2 separate regions of the Homo sapiens genome follow, and region 1 is linked to region 2. Evidence: fine-mapped expression QTL. Tissue or cell type: atrial appendage. Region 2 holds a variant in brackets; the other region holds the start of a gene. All regions are shown on one strand. Distances are from middle to middle.

What was found. PIP is the estimated chance that this variant, and not a neighbour inherited with it, causes the effect.
Region 1: LRRCC1 starts here. The variant in region 2 is fine-mapped to the expression of LRRCC1 in atrial appendage (GTEx, PIP 0.99). The same link has a PIP of 0.9 or more in whole blood.

The regions. Positions count from the first base shown.
Region 1 is chr8:85,102,248-85,110,415 of GRCh38, forward strand. It overlaps LRRCC1 (leucine rich repeat and coiled-coil centrosomal protein 1), which reads left to right and starts at 4,991. Exons shown (of 19, transcript NM_033402.5): 1 at 4,991-5,152; 2 at 7,348-7,553; 3 at 7,868-7,933. The coding sequence starts at 5,049. It overlaps LOC105375933 (a long non-coding RNA gene), which reads right to left and starts at 5,615. Exons shown (of 3, transcript XR_929117.3): 1 at 5,312-5,615. RefSeq lists an enhancer at 5,103-5,162.
Region 2 is chr8:85,152,963-85,161,166 of GRCh38, forward strand. No RefSeq gene overlaps it. Among named protein-coding and RNA genes, the nearest start is that of E2F5-DT, 20 kb to the right of the region's middle. The variant A/G (reference allele first, on the strand shown) is at 4,297.

The DNA.
Region 1 (8,168 bases), 51 kb before region 2:
GAGAAAAGCTGCCTTTCACATCCTTGGCTAAATTTATTTCTAAGTCTTTTATTTTTATAGCTATTGCAAATGGGATTGCCTTCTTGGTTTCTTTATCAGCTTGTTCATTATTAGTGTATAGAAATGCTACATTTGTGTATGTTAAAATTCTATGCTGCAACTTTCCTGAATTTATTTATCAGATCTAAGAGTTTTTTGGTAGAGTCCTTAAGTTTCTCTAGATATAAGATTATGCCATTTGCAAACAGGGACGATTTGACTTTCTCTTTTCCAATTTCAATGTCTTTTTATTTCTTTATATTGCCGATTGGTCTAGCTATAATTTCCAGTAGTATGTCAAATAAGAGTGCTGAAAGTGGGCACACTTGTCTTGTTCCAGTTCTTAGAGGAAAGGATTTCAACTTTTTCCCATTCAGGATGATGTTAGCTGTGAGTTTTTCATATACGGCCTTTATTATATTGAAGTATGTTCTTTCTATGCCTAGTTTGTTGAGAGTTTGTATCATGAAAAGACTGAGTTTCATCTAATGCGTTTTCTGCATCTACTGAGATGATCTTATGGATTTTGTCCTTCATTCTGTTGATATGATGTATCACATGTGTTCATTTACATATATTGAACAATTCCTGCATCCCTGGAATAAATCCCACTTGATTATCTAGTATCTGTTTGATGTGCTGTTGGATTCAGTTTTCATTGAGGATTTCATTGAGGATTTTTGCATCTGTTCATCAGGGATGTTGGCCTGTAGTTTTCTTTATTTTTTGCATCCCTGTCTAGTTTTGGTATCAATGTAATGCTGGCCTTGTAGAATGAGTTAGGGAGAATTCCCTCATGTTCAATTTTTTTAATAGCTTGAAGAGAATTGGCTTTGGTTCTTCTTTGAAAAATTGGTGGGAGTCAGCATGAAGCCATCCAGTCCTGGAGTTTTTTTGTTGGAAGACTTTTTATTACTGATTCTAGCTACTAATTATTGGTCTGTTTAGGTTTTCTATTTCTTCCTGGTTTAACCTTGGTAGATTGTATGTATCAAGGAATTCACCCATTTCCTTTAGGGTTTCCAGTTCATTACCATACAGTTGTTCATAATTGTCTCTGACACTCTTTTGTATTTCTGTGGCATCAGTTTTAATGCCTTCTTCTTCATTTCTTATTTTGTTTACTGGGATCTTCTTTTTTTCTTGGTTAGTCTAGCTAGTGAATTTTGTTTGTTATCAATTTTGCTCATCATTTTTTTAAAAAAAACATTTTGTTTTGTTGATCCTTTGTATTTTTTTAAGCTTCTATTTCATTTAGCTCTGCTCTGATCTTCATGATTTCTTTTCTTCTGCTAATTTTGGGTTGGGATTCTTCTTGCTTTTCTAGTTCCTTGAGGTGTAACATTAAATTGTTTATTTGAAATCTTTCTACTTTTTTGATAAAGGCATTAATTACTATAAGCTTCCCAGTTAGCATTGCTTTTGCTGTACCCCAGAGGTGTTGGTATGTTGTGTTTTGGTTCTTACTGGTCTAAAAAATTTTTTGATTTCCTCTTTAATTTCTTTCTTGCTCAATAATTTGGGAGCATGTTCTTTAATTTCCATATATTTGTGCAGTTTCTAAAGTTCCTCTTGTAATTGATTTCTGGTTTTGTTTCAATGGAGTCTGAGAAGACACTTAGCATTATTTATTTTTAAAAATTTTGTTGAGCCATTTTTGGTGTCCTAACATGTAGTCTGTCCTGGAGAATGTTCCCTATGTTGATGAGAAAAATGTGCGTTCTCTAGCTCTTGGATGAAATTTTCTGCAAATTTCTGTTAGATCCATTGGGTATAAAGTGCAGTTTAAATTAAATGTTTTTTGTTTGTTTGTTTGTTTTCTGTCTAGATGATCTATGTAATACTGAGAATGGGGTGCTTAAATCCCCAACTATTATCCTGTTGGAATCTCTCTCTCTCTCTTTAAATCTAATAATATTTGCTTTATACATCTGGGTGCCTAGGTGTAGAGTGCATATATGTTTAGAATTGTTATATCCTCTTGCTGAATTGATTTTTTTTTTTTTTTTTTGAGACAGTCTAACTCTGTCGCCCAGGCTGGAGTGCAGTGGTGCGATCTCAGTTCACTGCAACCTCCACCTCCCGGGTTCAAGTGATTCTCCTGTCTCAGCCTCCTGAGTAGCTGGGATTACAGGCACACGCAGCCAGCCCCTGCTAATTTTTTGCATTTTAGTAGAGACGGGGTTTCACCGTGTTACCGAGGCTGGTCTCAAACTCCTGAGCTCAGGCAATTCACCCGCCTCGGCCTCCCAAAGTGCTAGGATTACAGGCATGAGCCACTGTGCCCGATCCCTTTATCATTACATAGTGACCTTTCTTGTCTCTTTTTTACTATTTTTAACTTACAGTCTATTGTATCTAATATTCATATAGCTATTCCTGCTGGCTTTTGGTTTCCATTTGCATAAAATATCTTTTTTCTTCCCTTTACTTTCAGTCCATATGTGTCTTTACAAGTGTGATGAGTTTCTTCTAAGCAGACTATTGTTGGGTCATTTTTTAATCCATTAATTCAAGCTATATCTTCCAGGTGGAAAATTTATTCCATTTGCATAAGGTCATGATTGATACGTGAGGGCTTATTCCTGTCATTTTATTAATCCATTTCTGGTTATTTTTGTGTATTCCTTGTTCCTTTCCTTCTCTATCATTGTTTATGATTGTGGTTTGGTGGTTTTCTGTAATGGTAACATTTGAGTCCTTTCTCTTTCTTGTGTGTTTGATCTACCAGTGGACTTTATATTTTTGTGTGTTTTCATGCTGGTAAATATTGTCCTTTTGTTTCCATATGTAAGACTCTCATGAGCATTTTTATAGGTCCAGTCGACTGGTGATGAATTCTTTTGCTTTTGCTTATCTTGGAAAGACTTTATTTTTCCTTGGTTTATGAAGGATAACTTTGTTGAGTACTTGGCTGGCTGTTTTTTCTTTCAGCACTTTGAATTTATCATACCATTCTCTGCCGGCTTGTAAAGTTTTTGGTGAGAAATCCACTGTTAGTTTGTTGAGGGTTCCCTTATAAATGACTAGATGTTTTTCTCTTGCTGTTTTTAGAATTCTTTGTCTTTGACTTTTATCAGTTTGACTACAATGGGCCATAAAGGAGACTTTTTCTTTTCTTTTCTTTTTTGCGAAAGAAGACATGCAAGCAGCCAAGAAACATATTTTTAAATGCTCAACATCACTAATAATCAGAGAGATGTAAATCAAAACTATAATAAGATATCATCTCACAGCAGTCAGAGTGGGTTTTATTAAAAAGTCAGAAAATATGAGATGTTAGTGAGGTTGCAGAGAAAAAGTAATGCTTACACACCATCAGTGGGAATGCAAATTGCAGCCACTGTGGAAAGCAGTTTGGAGATTTCACAAAGAACTAAAAATAGAATTACCGTTCAATCCAGGAATCCCATGACCAGGTATCTAGCCAAAGAAAAATAAATTGTTTTACCAAAAAGACACCCGCATTCATATGTTTATTGCAGCACAGTAGCAAAGGCATGGAATGAGCCCTGATGCCCATCAATGATAGACTGGATAAAGAAAATGTGGCACATATACACCAACATGCAGCCATAAAAAAGAACAAAATCATGTCCTTTGCAGCAATATGGATGCAGCTGAAGGTCATTATCCTAAGTGAATTAACACAGAAACAGAAAACCAAATACCATATGTTCTCACTTCCAAGTGGCAGCTAAACACTGGATACACATGAACACAAAGATGGGAACAATAGACACTGGGGACTCCAAAAGGGGGAAGGCAAGAGTTGAATAACTACCTATCAAGCGCTATATTTACTATTTGGGTTACAGGATCATTAGAAGCCACAACCTCAGCATCGTGCAATATACTTATGTAACAAACCTGCACATGTACCCCCGAATCTAAAATAAAAAGTGAGATGAAATTTTTTTTAAAAGAAAACCTTTTTGCATTGTATCTGTTTGGGAACCTTTGGCCTCCTGTGCCTGGGTGTCTAAATCTCTTGCTAGACTTGGGAAGTTTTCATATAGTATTTTGTTGAACCATTTTTCCAACTCTATTGTTTTCTCTTTGCCTTCTGAGACTCCAAAATTTTGAATATTTGGTCACTTTATGGTGTCCTACATGTCATGTGGGTTTTGCTCATTTTTTAAAACATCTTTTTTATTTTTGTCTATATGAGTTATTTCAAAAGGAAATAGTCCACTTCAAATGGACTACTGCACCATTTGCTCCGTTTTAAAATATTACTATGCCTTAGGAAGCAATCTAGCCAGGAGGGTTATTTGACCTCACACAGGTATTGCTTTCCCACCTGTAATGCCATTCATCCAGAACTCCCCCTAACCCAGCAAGACTCTATTCAGTCATCAATCACTTCTTTTAGAAAACGTACCCACTACCCATATCACTCTAGAGTTGGTTTCGATGCCCTTGTGTTATTCTTAGCATTCGTCATACTGTATGGCAATTCTGTTTCCTCTATGGGGCTGCGAATGTTTCCAGGAACAAGAATAGGCTTCATCTTTTTCTTCCTCATACAGGGAAGTGACTGACATACAGTAAGGCATCCCACAAATTGTTCAATGAATCAACAGGAGGTGCAATGGCCAGAGGAACAATTTATACGTATGTAAGGCTATGTAAAGGCACGTAAAGCCAAACCGCTGTGAAAACCGCCTTCAGAAGTCAGTCGGCTACTAGGCAAATATACAGAAGCACACAGGACAAATCCATTCATTCTCCAGCTCCTACACGCCCGGGAAGCAGTTTTACTTTACAGCAAGTTCAAGAGTCGCACCGCAGATGCTGTAAAAACGAAAGAAGCCCACAGTTGGGACGAGGATTCCAGTTTTGCGTCACCGTCAAGGCGGGAAAGTTCCCGGCTGTCGGTTGGAGGGTGGGTCCTCGCCCCGCCCCGCCCCCTCGGGCCGCCCTTCCGCGCTTCCGGGAGGCTTGTCCCAAGCTCACGGACCCCTCGCTGGGTGCCGGTTAAGACCCCGCTCCCCGTCGCCAGTGCTATGGAGGCGGCGGCGGCGGTGGTGGCGGCAGAGGCGGAAGTGGAAAACGAAGACGGCGACAGCAGCTGCGGGGATGTATGCTTCATGGACAAAGGCTTGCAGAGGTAAAGGGCGCTCCGCAGCCAGGAGCGACCCGCGCACTCCCCAGAGCCGGGGCCACGAGTGGCTGGCGGCGACACCAGAGTGGAGGCGCGGCACTGCTTTACCAAGACCATAAGTGAACGCAGTCTGGCTTTCGGCCTCCCCGCTCCTCCAAAACTTACCTGCCGAAGTGCCAGGTTGAATGAGCCGTGGATGCCTTCCCGCCCGTGTCTCCTGCCCAGCGTTTCACACGACTCTGCTTAGCCTAGAAACTGCCCCAGGACCTTGTCCTCCACCAGCTTCTGACCACTCTTTCCTTCTGCTGGTTTTCCTTACTTACTGGTGGTTATTCCTTTGCTTGCCGTTTAATTGCTGGTTTTCTCGTGTTCTCTCGTCTTTCCTGTTCTTACCTCTGAAAAAAACCTGCAGGATAGTATCTCTGGCAGCTATGAGCGGGCAGTCGCTGCTGCCTGTTAGTTTTGCCTCAGTTCTCCTTGTCTGCATTCGAAATCATTTGTCCGTTACAGAACATTGCAATACATATATTCATATACTTTTTGAAAGTACTAAACTTACTATATTTAGTTCATCGTTTCCCTCTCTCTTGAAGCCCTGACTTGTGCAAAGCATATGAGGCACTTGGTTCTGTAATACTGTAAAGCAGGTCTCCACCTGCATTTCAGGCTCTTTAGTCTCGACCCGTAACATTTCTCCACTTACACTTTATTTACCTGTACTGAGCTACAGGCAATTCCATAGCAGACTTCTCTGTGCCTTTGCACATGCTGTTCCTTTGTAGCGTGTCCTCTACGCGAACTCTGCTACTGATAATTAAGCATCTTGTTCTGGATTCTGATTTAAACTTTGCCAGATGATCCCAAGAAGATGCTGTTCAAGGGACATTTTACATTTCTATTTAATACTAGCTGCCATTTACTGAATGCTATCTGTTGTGTGCATGTTATATACATTATCAGTAATCCTCACAGCAATTCTACAAGGTAGTAATTTTTCTCATTTACAAGTGATGAATGAGACTCAGAATCTATTGACAATTTGTTCATCTTTATACACTTCATGAAGAATTAAGTTCGGATTCAAACCCATTTTCCGTCTAATTTCACTATGCTTTTTCTATCTCACATTATCTGCACATTATTAATGTCGAGAAACTGAAATGTGTCAGAAAGTAAATGACTGTCATTAAGAGCATGTGTTAACAGCATAAGGTCTGGCACTAAATAAGAACTCAAGTAAATGACACAGCAGGATAAGTGGGAAATGCCCCAGATAGTCACATTTAAAGGTTGCTAGTTTGAAATTTGCAAATGCTTCCCTGCTGTCAGAGTTAGGTTTCCTACAGCTGTAAGATAGCTGCTACTCAACCTACAGCAGATGCCCGTGACATTGTGTGTTCCTGGGTGTATCTCCCATCTAGCAACTCCAAACTGTGTATGCTGTAGTTTGTGTTCCTGGAACTACTATCTTCAGGAGAAGCTTCAGTTATAAATAGTAATTGGAGTGAAGAGATGAGTTCTGTTTAGGGGAGATCCATTAACTTTCAACAAGGGAGGACAGGGACTTTTTCAATAGGAATTGCAATAACATGGTTTGTTTTTGAAAATGCAATAGACTGTGGATTAAATAGCTATTGCACACAAAGAAGAAAATAAAGTTATAATCTCCAGCATGAGATCTGGATTTACATATGCTCTGTTAGCTGCAAGAATTTGGGCAAGCTATTTAATTTCCATAAATTTAGGTATCCTTAAGATACCCACTGCTTAGAGTTATTGTGAGAATTAATTGAGGTAAGAAAACTGAGGCTCAGGTTGTCATTTGCTCAAATCACACAGCAAAACCGTGATAGAATGCAGATTCAAACTGGGATATTAACATTCCAAAGCCTTTACAGTTATTGACTACTATTCAGCACTGCCTTCAATATATGCTGATGACTGCACACAGGAGTTAGAAATGCCCACTGTCACTTGCCTGCCTTGAGCGGTTTCTTGTTTGTATAAATAATCCAAAATACTTGGTTGTGTTGTAAGAAGCACCGTGTTTTGTGAGACATTTCAAAGGTACCACAAATAGGAAAGATTTCATTCTAGAATGAATAGAGCACATATTTAGTATCTACGTGCTGTTTGGTTAATTTTAGTTATTTGGTCATGCTTTTAAAATCTATTTTTATAGTATATATTTTCTTTTATAGCATATCAGAATTATCTTTAGATTCAACTCTTCATGCCGTCAATCTTCATTGCAATAACATCTCCAAGATCGAAGCCATTGATCATATTTGGAATTTACAACATCTAGATCTGTCATCTAATCAAATAAGTAGAATTGAAGGACTAAACACACTGACAAAACTGTGCACATTAAATTTGTCCTGCAATTTGATTACAAAAGTAGAAGGTTTGTAAGTGATTTTCATTTAACACTTAGCGTAAGGAAAATGATTTAGGTCCATTTTTTTCCCCAAAAGAATGGAATAAATATCAGAAACTCTTAAAAATTGAGTCTGAAACTCATTATACAAAATATTTTCTCCAAAAAAGTGTCAATTTTTTAAAAATTCTGTTTTTTCTAAATGCCAATAAAATTGATTTCGCTGTTACCAGACTGGATTTACTTCAGAACAGTCTGAAATAACATTGTAATGCTATATCTCTGTAATTAATTATTTAAATTTTATAAAGGCTTTATTTTATTTTACTTTTTTTTTTTAGGACTTGAAGAACTAATTAATCTGACTAGACTAAATGTATCTTATAACCACATAGATGATCTTAGTGGTAAGTAGAAATGCTTATGTTTTCTGTATGCTAAATGTTGTGCCACATGTGATAAGTTAACAGCTCAGCTAAACATGTTGGAAATCTCTGAATATTAATCTAATTTTTAGCCAAAGAGCTCATCTAGAGAGCGTATTCCAGTCATGATTCTATTTTGTTGGTACCAAAACCACAGCTGAGTACAAAATAGAAGTTAAAACCAAGGTAATCAGTAGCAGGAAAAACTTAATTGGAA
Region 2 (8,204 bases):
CCCCTGGTGCCATCGACCACCCAAGGGCTGAGGAGTGCGGGCAGATGGTGCAGGACTGGCGGGCAGCTCCGCCCGTGGCCCCTGCATGGGATCCATGAGGCGAAGCCAGCTGGGCTCCTGAGTCAGATGGGGACTTGGAGAACTTTTATGTTTAGCCAGAGGATTGTATATTCACTAATAAGCACTCTGTGTCTAGCTTGGGGTTCGTGGATGCACCAATCAGCACTCTCTATCTAGCTAATCTGGTAGGGACTTGGAGAATCTTTATGTATAGCTAAAGGATTGTAAATGCACCAATCAGCACCCTGTGTCTAGCTCATGGTTTGTAAACGCACCAATCAGCACCCTGTCTCTAGCTCAAAGTTTGTAAATGCACCCATCAGTGTTCTGTGTCTAGTTAATCTAGTGGGGACTTGGAGAACTTTTACGTCTAGCTAGAGGATTGTAAATACACCAATCAGCACTCTGTGTCTAGCTCAGGGATTGTAAATGCACCAATCAGCACCCTGTCAAAAAGGACTAATCAGCTCTCTGTAAAATGGACCAATCAGCTGTCTGTAAAATGGACCAATCAGCTCTCTCTAAAATGGGCCAATCATCAGGATGTGGGTGGGGTCAGATAAGGGAATAAAAACAGGCTGCCCAAGCCAGCAGCGGCAACGTGCTCGGGTCCCCTTCCACATTGTGGAAGCTTTGTTCTTTCACTGTTTGCAATAAATCTTGCTGCTGCTCACTCTTTGGGTCTGCACTGCCTTTATGAGCTATAACACTCACCGTGAAGGTCTGCAGCTTCACTCCTGAGGCCAGCAAGACCATGAACCCACCTGGAGGAATGAACAACTCCGGACAGGAGGAACGAACAACTCCGGACAGGAGGAACGAACAACTCCAGATGCACCACCTTAAGAGGCGCCACCTTAAGAGCTGTAACACTCACCGCGAAGGTCTGCAGCTTCACTCCTGAAGCCAGCAAGACCACAAACCCACCAGAAGGAAGAAACTGAACACGTCTGAACATCAGAAGGAACAAACTCAGGACAGACTACCTTTAAGAACTGTAACACTCACCGTAAAGGTCTTCGGCTTCATTCTTGAAGTCAATGAGACCAAGAACCCACCAATTTTGGACACACAATCAAATTAGAACTCAGGATGAATAAACTCACTCAAAACTGCACAACTATATGGAAACTGAACAAACTGCTCCTGAATGTCTACTGGGTAAATAACGAAATAAAGGCAGAAGTAAAGATGTTCTTTGAAACCAATGAGAACAAAGACACAACGTAGCAGAATCTCTGAGACACATTTAAAGCAGTTTGTAGAGGGAAATTTATAGCACTAAATGCCCACAAGAGAAAGCAAGAAAGATCTAAAATCGACACCCTAATATCACAATTAAAAGAACTAGAGAAGCAAGAGCAAACACATTCAAAAGCTAGCAGAAGGCAAGAAATAACTAAGATCACAGCAGAACTGACGGAGTTAGAGAAACAAAAAAACCTTCAAAAAATCAATGAATCCAGGAGTTGATTTTTTGAAAAGATCAACAAAATAGACTGCTAGCGAGACTAACAAAGAAGAAAAGAGAGAAGAACCAAATAGACACAATAAAAAATAAAGGGGATATCACCACTGATCCCACAGAAATACAAACTACCATCAGAGATTATAGTATAAACACCTCTATGCAAATAAACTAGAAAATCTAGAAGAAATGGATAAATTCCTGGACACATACACCCTCCCAAGCCTAATCAAGAAGAAGTTGAATCTCTGAATAGACCAATAACAAGTTCTGAAAGTGAGGCAATAATTACTAGCCTACCAACCAAAAAAAAGTCCAGGACCAGATGGATTCACAGCCAAATTCTACCAGAGGTACGAAGAAGAGCTGGTACCATTCCTTCTGAAACAATTTCAATCTCTATTAAAAGAGGGAATTGTCCCTAACACATTTTATGAGGCTAGAATCATCCTGATATCAAAGCCTGGTAGAGACACAACAAAAAAAGAGAATTTTAGGCCAATATCCCTGATGAACATCAATGTGAAAATCCCCAATAAAGTACTGGCAAACTGAATCCAGCAGCACATCAGAAAGCTTATCCACCACAATCAAGTTGGCTTCATCCATGGGATGCAAGACTGGTACAACATATGCAAATCAATAAACGTAATCCATCACATAAACAGAACCAACGACAAAAACCACATGATTATCTCAATAGATGCAGAAAAGGCCTTCGACAAAATTCAACAGCCCTTCATGCTAAAAAGTCTCAATAAATTAGGTATTGATGGGACATATCTCAAAATAATAAGAGCTATCTATGACAAACCCACAGCCAATATCATACTGAATGGGCAAAAACTAGAAGCATTCCCTTTGCGAACTGGCACAAGACAGGGATGCCCTCTCTCACCACTCCTATTCAACATAGTGTTGGAACTTCCGGCCAGGGCAATCAGACAGGAGAAAGAAATAAAGGGCATTCAATTAGGAAAAGAGGAAGTCAAATAGTCTCTGTTTGCAGATGACATGATTATATATTTATAAAACCCCATCATCTCAGCCAAAATCTCCTTAAGCTGATAAGCAACTTCAGCGAAGTCTCAGGATACAAAGTCAATGTGCAAAAATCACAAGCATTCCTATACACCAATAATAGACAAACAGAGCACCAAATCATGAGTGAATTCCCACTCACAATTGCCACTAAGAGAATAAAATACCTAGGAATACAACTTACAAGGGATGTGAAGGACCTCTTCAAGGAGAACTATAAACCACTGCTCAACAAAATAAAAGAGGACACAAACAAATGGAAGAACATTCCATGCTCATGGAAAGGAAGAATCAATATTGTGAAAATGGCCATACTGCGCAAGGTAATTTATAGATTGAATGCTGTCGCCATCAAGCTACCATTGACTTTCTTCACAGAATTGGGAAAAGCTAAAGTTCATATGGAACCAAAAAAGAGCCCGCATTGCCAAGACAATCCTAAGCAAAAAGGACAAAGCTGGAGGCATCAGACTACCTGACTTCAAACTATACTACAAGGCTACAGGAACCAAAACAGCATGGTACTGGTACCAAAACAGATATATAGACCAATGGAACAGAACAGAGGCCTCAGAAATAACACCACACATCTACAACTATCTGATCTTTGACAAACCTGACAAAAACCAGAAATGGGGAAAGGATTCCCTATTTAATAAATGGTGCTGGGAAATCTGGCTAGCCATATGTAGAAAGCTAAAACTGGATCCCTTCCTTACACCATATACAAAAATTAACTCAAGGTGGATTGAAGACTTAAATGTAAGACCTAACACCATAAAACCCTAGAAGAAAACCTAGGCAATACCATTCAGGACATACACATGGGCAAAGACTTCATGACTAAAATACCAATAGCAATGGCAACAAAAGCCAAAATTGACACATGGGATCTAATTAAACTAAAGAGCTTCTGCACAGCAAAGGAAACTATCATCAGAATGAACAGGCAGCCTACAGAATTGGAGAAAATCTTTGCAATCTACCATATGACAAAGGGCTCATATCCAGGATCTACAAAGAACTTAGACGAATTTACAAGAAAAAACAACCCCATCAAAAAGTGGGCAAAGGATATGAACAGACACTTCTCAAAAGAGGACATTTATGCAGCCAACAAACATATGAAAAAATGCTCATCTTCACTGGTCATTAAAGAAATGCAAATCAAACCACAATGAGATACCATCTCACAGCAGTTACAATGGTGATCATTAAAAAGTCAGGAAACAATAGATGCTGGAGAGGATGTGGAGGAATAGGAAGGCTTTTACACTGTTGGTAGGAGTGTAAATGAGTTCAACCATTGTGGAAGACAGTGTGGCAATTCCTCAAGGATCTAGAACTAGAAATACCATTTGACCCAGCAATCCTATTACTGGCTATATACCCAAAGGAGTATAAATCATTCTATGATAAAGACACATGCACACGTATGTTTGCTGCGGCACTATTCACAATAGCAAAGACTTGGAACCAACCCAAATGTCCATCAATGATAGACTGGATTAAGAATATGTGGCACATATACACCATGGAATACTATGCAGCCATAAAAAGGATGAGTTCATGTCCTTTGCAGGTACATGGATGAAGCTGGAAACCATCATTCTCAGCAAACTATCACAAAGACAGAAAACCAAACACCACATGTTCTCACTCATATGTGGGAGTTGAGCAATGAGAATACATGGACACAGGCTGGGGAACATCACACACCAGGGCCT[A/G]TTGGGGAGTGGGGGCCTGGGAGAGGGATAGCATTAGGAGAAATACCTAATGTAAGTGTCGAGTTGATAGGTGCAGCAAACTAACATGGCACATGTATACCTATGTAACAAACCTGCACATTGTGCACATGTACCCTAGAACTTAAAGTGTAATAATTTTTTTTAAAAAAGGCACAGAGTGGCAACTTGGATAAAGAAGAAAGACCCATCAGTATGCTATCTTCAAGACCCCCATCTTACATGCAATGACACCCATAGGCTCACAAAAGGACAGAGAAAAATCTACCAAGCAAATGGAAAACAGAAAAGAACCAAGTGTTGTTATCATAATTTCAGACAAAACAGACTTTAAACCAGCAAAGATCAAAAAGGACAATGACGATACATGATGGTGTAAAGTTCAGTTCAATAAGACCTAACAATCCTAAATATATTTGCCTACAATACAGGAGCACCCAGATTCGATAAAATTCAACTTCCCATCAGTAAAAGCCCTCAACAAACTAGACATTGAAGGAACATACTTCAAAATAATGAGAGCCATCTATGACAAACCCACAGCCAACATCATATTGAATGGGCAAAACCTGGAAACATTCCCCTTGAAAATCGGAACAAAACAAGGACACCCTCTCTCACCACTTCTATTCAACATAGTACTGGAAGTGCTAGCCACAGCAATCAAACAAGAGAAAGAAATAAAGGGCATCCAAATAGGAATGGAGGAAGTCAAACTATCCCTGTTTGAAGATGATATGATTCTTTACCTAGAAAACCCTATAGTCTCTGCCCAAAAGCTTCTTAATCTGATACTTCACCAAAGTTTCAGGATACAAAATCAATGTACAAAAATCAGTAGCATTGCTATACACCAACAACATCCAAGCTGAGAGCCAAATTAAGAATGCAATCCCATTCACAATAGCCACAAAAAGAATGAACTGCCTAGGAATACAGCTAATCAGGGAGGTGAAACATCTCTATAATGAGAATTACAAAACACTCTTCTAAGAAATCAGAGATGACACAAACAAATGGAAAAACATTCCATGTACATGGATGGGAAGAATCAATAATGTCAAAACAGTTATACTGCCCAAAGCAATTTATAGATTCAATGTTATTCCTATTAAACTACCAATGTATTCTTCACAGAATTTAAAAAGGCTATTTTAAAATTCATATGGAACCAAGAGCCCAAATATCCAAGGCAATCCTAAGCAAAAATAACAAAGCTAGAGGCATCACATTACCTGACTTCAAACTATATTACAAAGCTACAGTAACCAAAACAGCATAATACTTGTATAAAAACAGACATATAGGCCAATGGAACAGAATATAGAGCCCAGGAATAATTCTGCACACCTACAACCATCTGATCTTTGACAAAGTTAACAGAAACAAGCAATGAGGAAAGGACTCCCTATTCAATAAATGGTGCTGGGATAACTAGTTAGCCATATGCAGAAGAGTGAAACTGTACCCTTTCCTGACACCATATAAAAAAATCAACTGGTCTGGGTGTGGTGGCTCACACCTGTAATCTTAGCACTTTGGGAGGTCAAGGTGGGCAGATCACTTGAGGTCAGGAGTTCCAGATCAGCCTGGCCAACATGATGAAACCCCCTCTCTACTAAAAACACAAAAATTAGCTGGGCGTGGTGATGCACACCTATAGTCCCAGCTACTCAGGAGGCTGAAGCATGATAATTGCTTGAACCCGGGAGGCAGAGGTTGCAGTGAGCCAAGACTGCGCCACTGCACTCCAGCCTGGGTGACAGAGTGAGACTCTGTCTCAAAAAAATTATATAAAACAAAATGAAAATAAATAAATAAATAAAAGGCAATAGTAAGTGTTGACAATGATGTAGTAATAGGAATCCTCATACACTGCTAGTGGGAATATACAATGGTGCAGCCACTTTGGAAAACATTCTGGCAGTTCAGCAGAAGGTTAAACATAGAGTTGTTATATAATCCAGTAATTCCATCCCTAGTTACATACTCAGGAGAAATGAAAATTTTGTCCACCCAAAAACCTGTACGCAAATGTTAACAAGAGCATTATTCAAAAGATCCAAAAGGTGGAAACAATCCAAATATCCATCATGTGATGAATGGATAAATAAAATGTGGTATATCCATACAATGGAATATTATTTGGCAATAAAAAGAAATGAATACTGATACAACCTGCAATATGCAAATGTCCAGAATAGGCAAATTTATAGAGACAGAAAGTAGATTGATTCGTGGTTGCCAGTGGCTGGGAGTTTGAGGGGAAAGGAACATTTAGTTTTTTGGGGGGCACTGAATATATTAAAAATCAATAAATTATACACTTAAATGAGTGAATTACATAGTATGTAAATTATACCTCAATAAAGAAAAAACTTAACAAGAATTCAGTATTGAATAATACACTAAAACTGTTTTCAGAAAAAAGAAGGGAATAAAGTAAGAACACAGGAATAAAACCATTGGAGATATATAGAAAACAAATCATGAAGTACCAGCTGTATATCCAATAATATCAATATTTACATTAAATGTGAATGGTCTAAACAAGGACTTGGCAAATGCAGGCTGCAAGCCAAATTCTGCTGCTTGTTTTGAAAAATAAAGTTCCTTTGGAACACACCCATACGCATCCATTTATATATTCTATTGCTGCTTTTGTGCTACAATAGCAAAGTTAAATGAGTGCAACAGAGACCACCGTGAAAAGTCTAAAATATGTATTATCTAGTCTCCTATGGAAAAAGTTTGCTGATCCCTGATCTAAATATGCCAGTCAATGAACAGAGATTGTCAGACTAGATTTTTTTAAAAAGTCAAGATCCAACTATATTTTGCCTATAAGAGACACATTTTAGACTCAAAGACACAAATCAGTTGATAGCCAAAAGATGAGAAAAGAGAGATTAAGCATTCAATCATTTTAATAATTCAAAATGAATTAATGTAAGAGCTGAGACCATAAAACTTTTAGAAGTTTATGGCCCACTTCTTGGTATATATCCAAAGGAAATAAAACTAGTATCTCAAAGAGTTATCTGCATCCCCATGTTCATTGCAGCATTATTTACAATGGCAAAACATGGAAACAACATAAGTGTTCACTGATGGATGAATGGATTTTAAAAAATGGTAGATTCAAATGAAATATTATTCAGCCATAAGAAACAAGGAAATTATTTCATTTGCGACAATATGGATGAATCTGGAGGACATTATACTGAGTAAAATAAGGCCAGACACAGAAAGATAAAAACTGTATGATCTCACTTTTATGTGGAATCTAAAAAAGTTGAACTCACAGAAGCAGAGAACATAATGGTGGCCGCTGGGAGCTGGGGGTTGGGGTAAATTAGGAGATGTTGGTTAAAATGTATACACTCTCACTCAGAAAATGAATAGGTTCTGGGGATCTGATGTACAGCATGGTGACTTTAGTTAATAATACTGTATTGTTTGATAAGAGAGTAGATTTTAAGCCTCCTCACCTCTCCTCAAACACACACTCAAAAAAACGTAACTATGGGTGATGAGGATGTGTTTATTTGATTGTGGTAAACAATATACAATGTATAATGTATATCAAATCATCACATTGTAAACTTTCAATAATACAACTTTGTCAATTAAATATTTGTATATTTTAAAAGATGACAACGTGAAACAAAATCCTTGTGCCCTTGGATTAGGCAAAGATTCTTTAGACATGAAAAAGTATGATCCATAATGTTATGGGCTGATCACGTAACCCCAAATTCACAAAGTACTAACCCCCAACACCCCTCATAATGTGACTGTATTTAAAGACTGAGCCTCTAAAGAGGTAATTAAAGTTCAATGAAGTCATATTGATGGACCCTAATCCAATTTGACTAGTGTCCTTATAA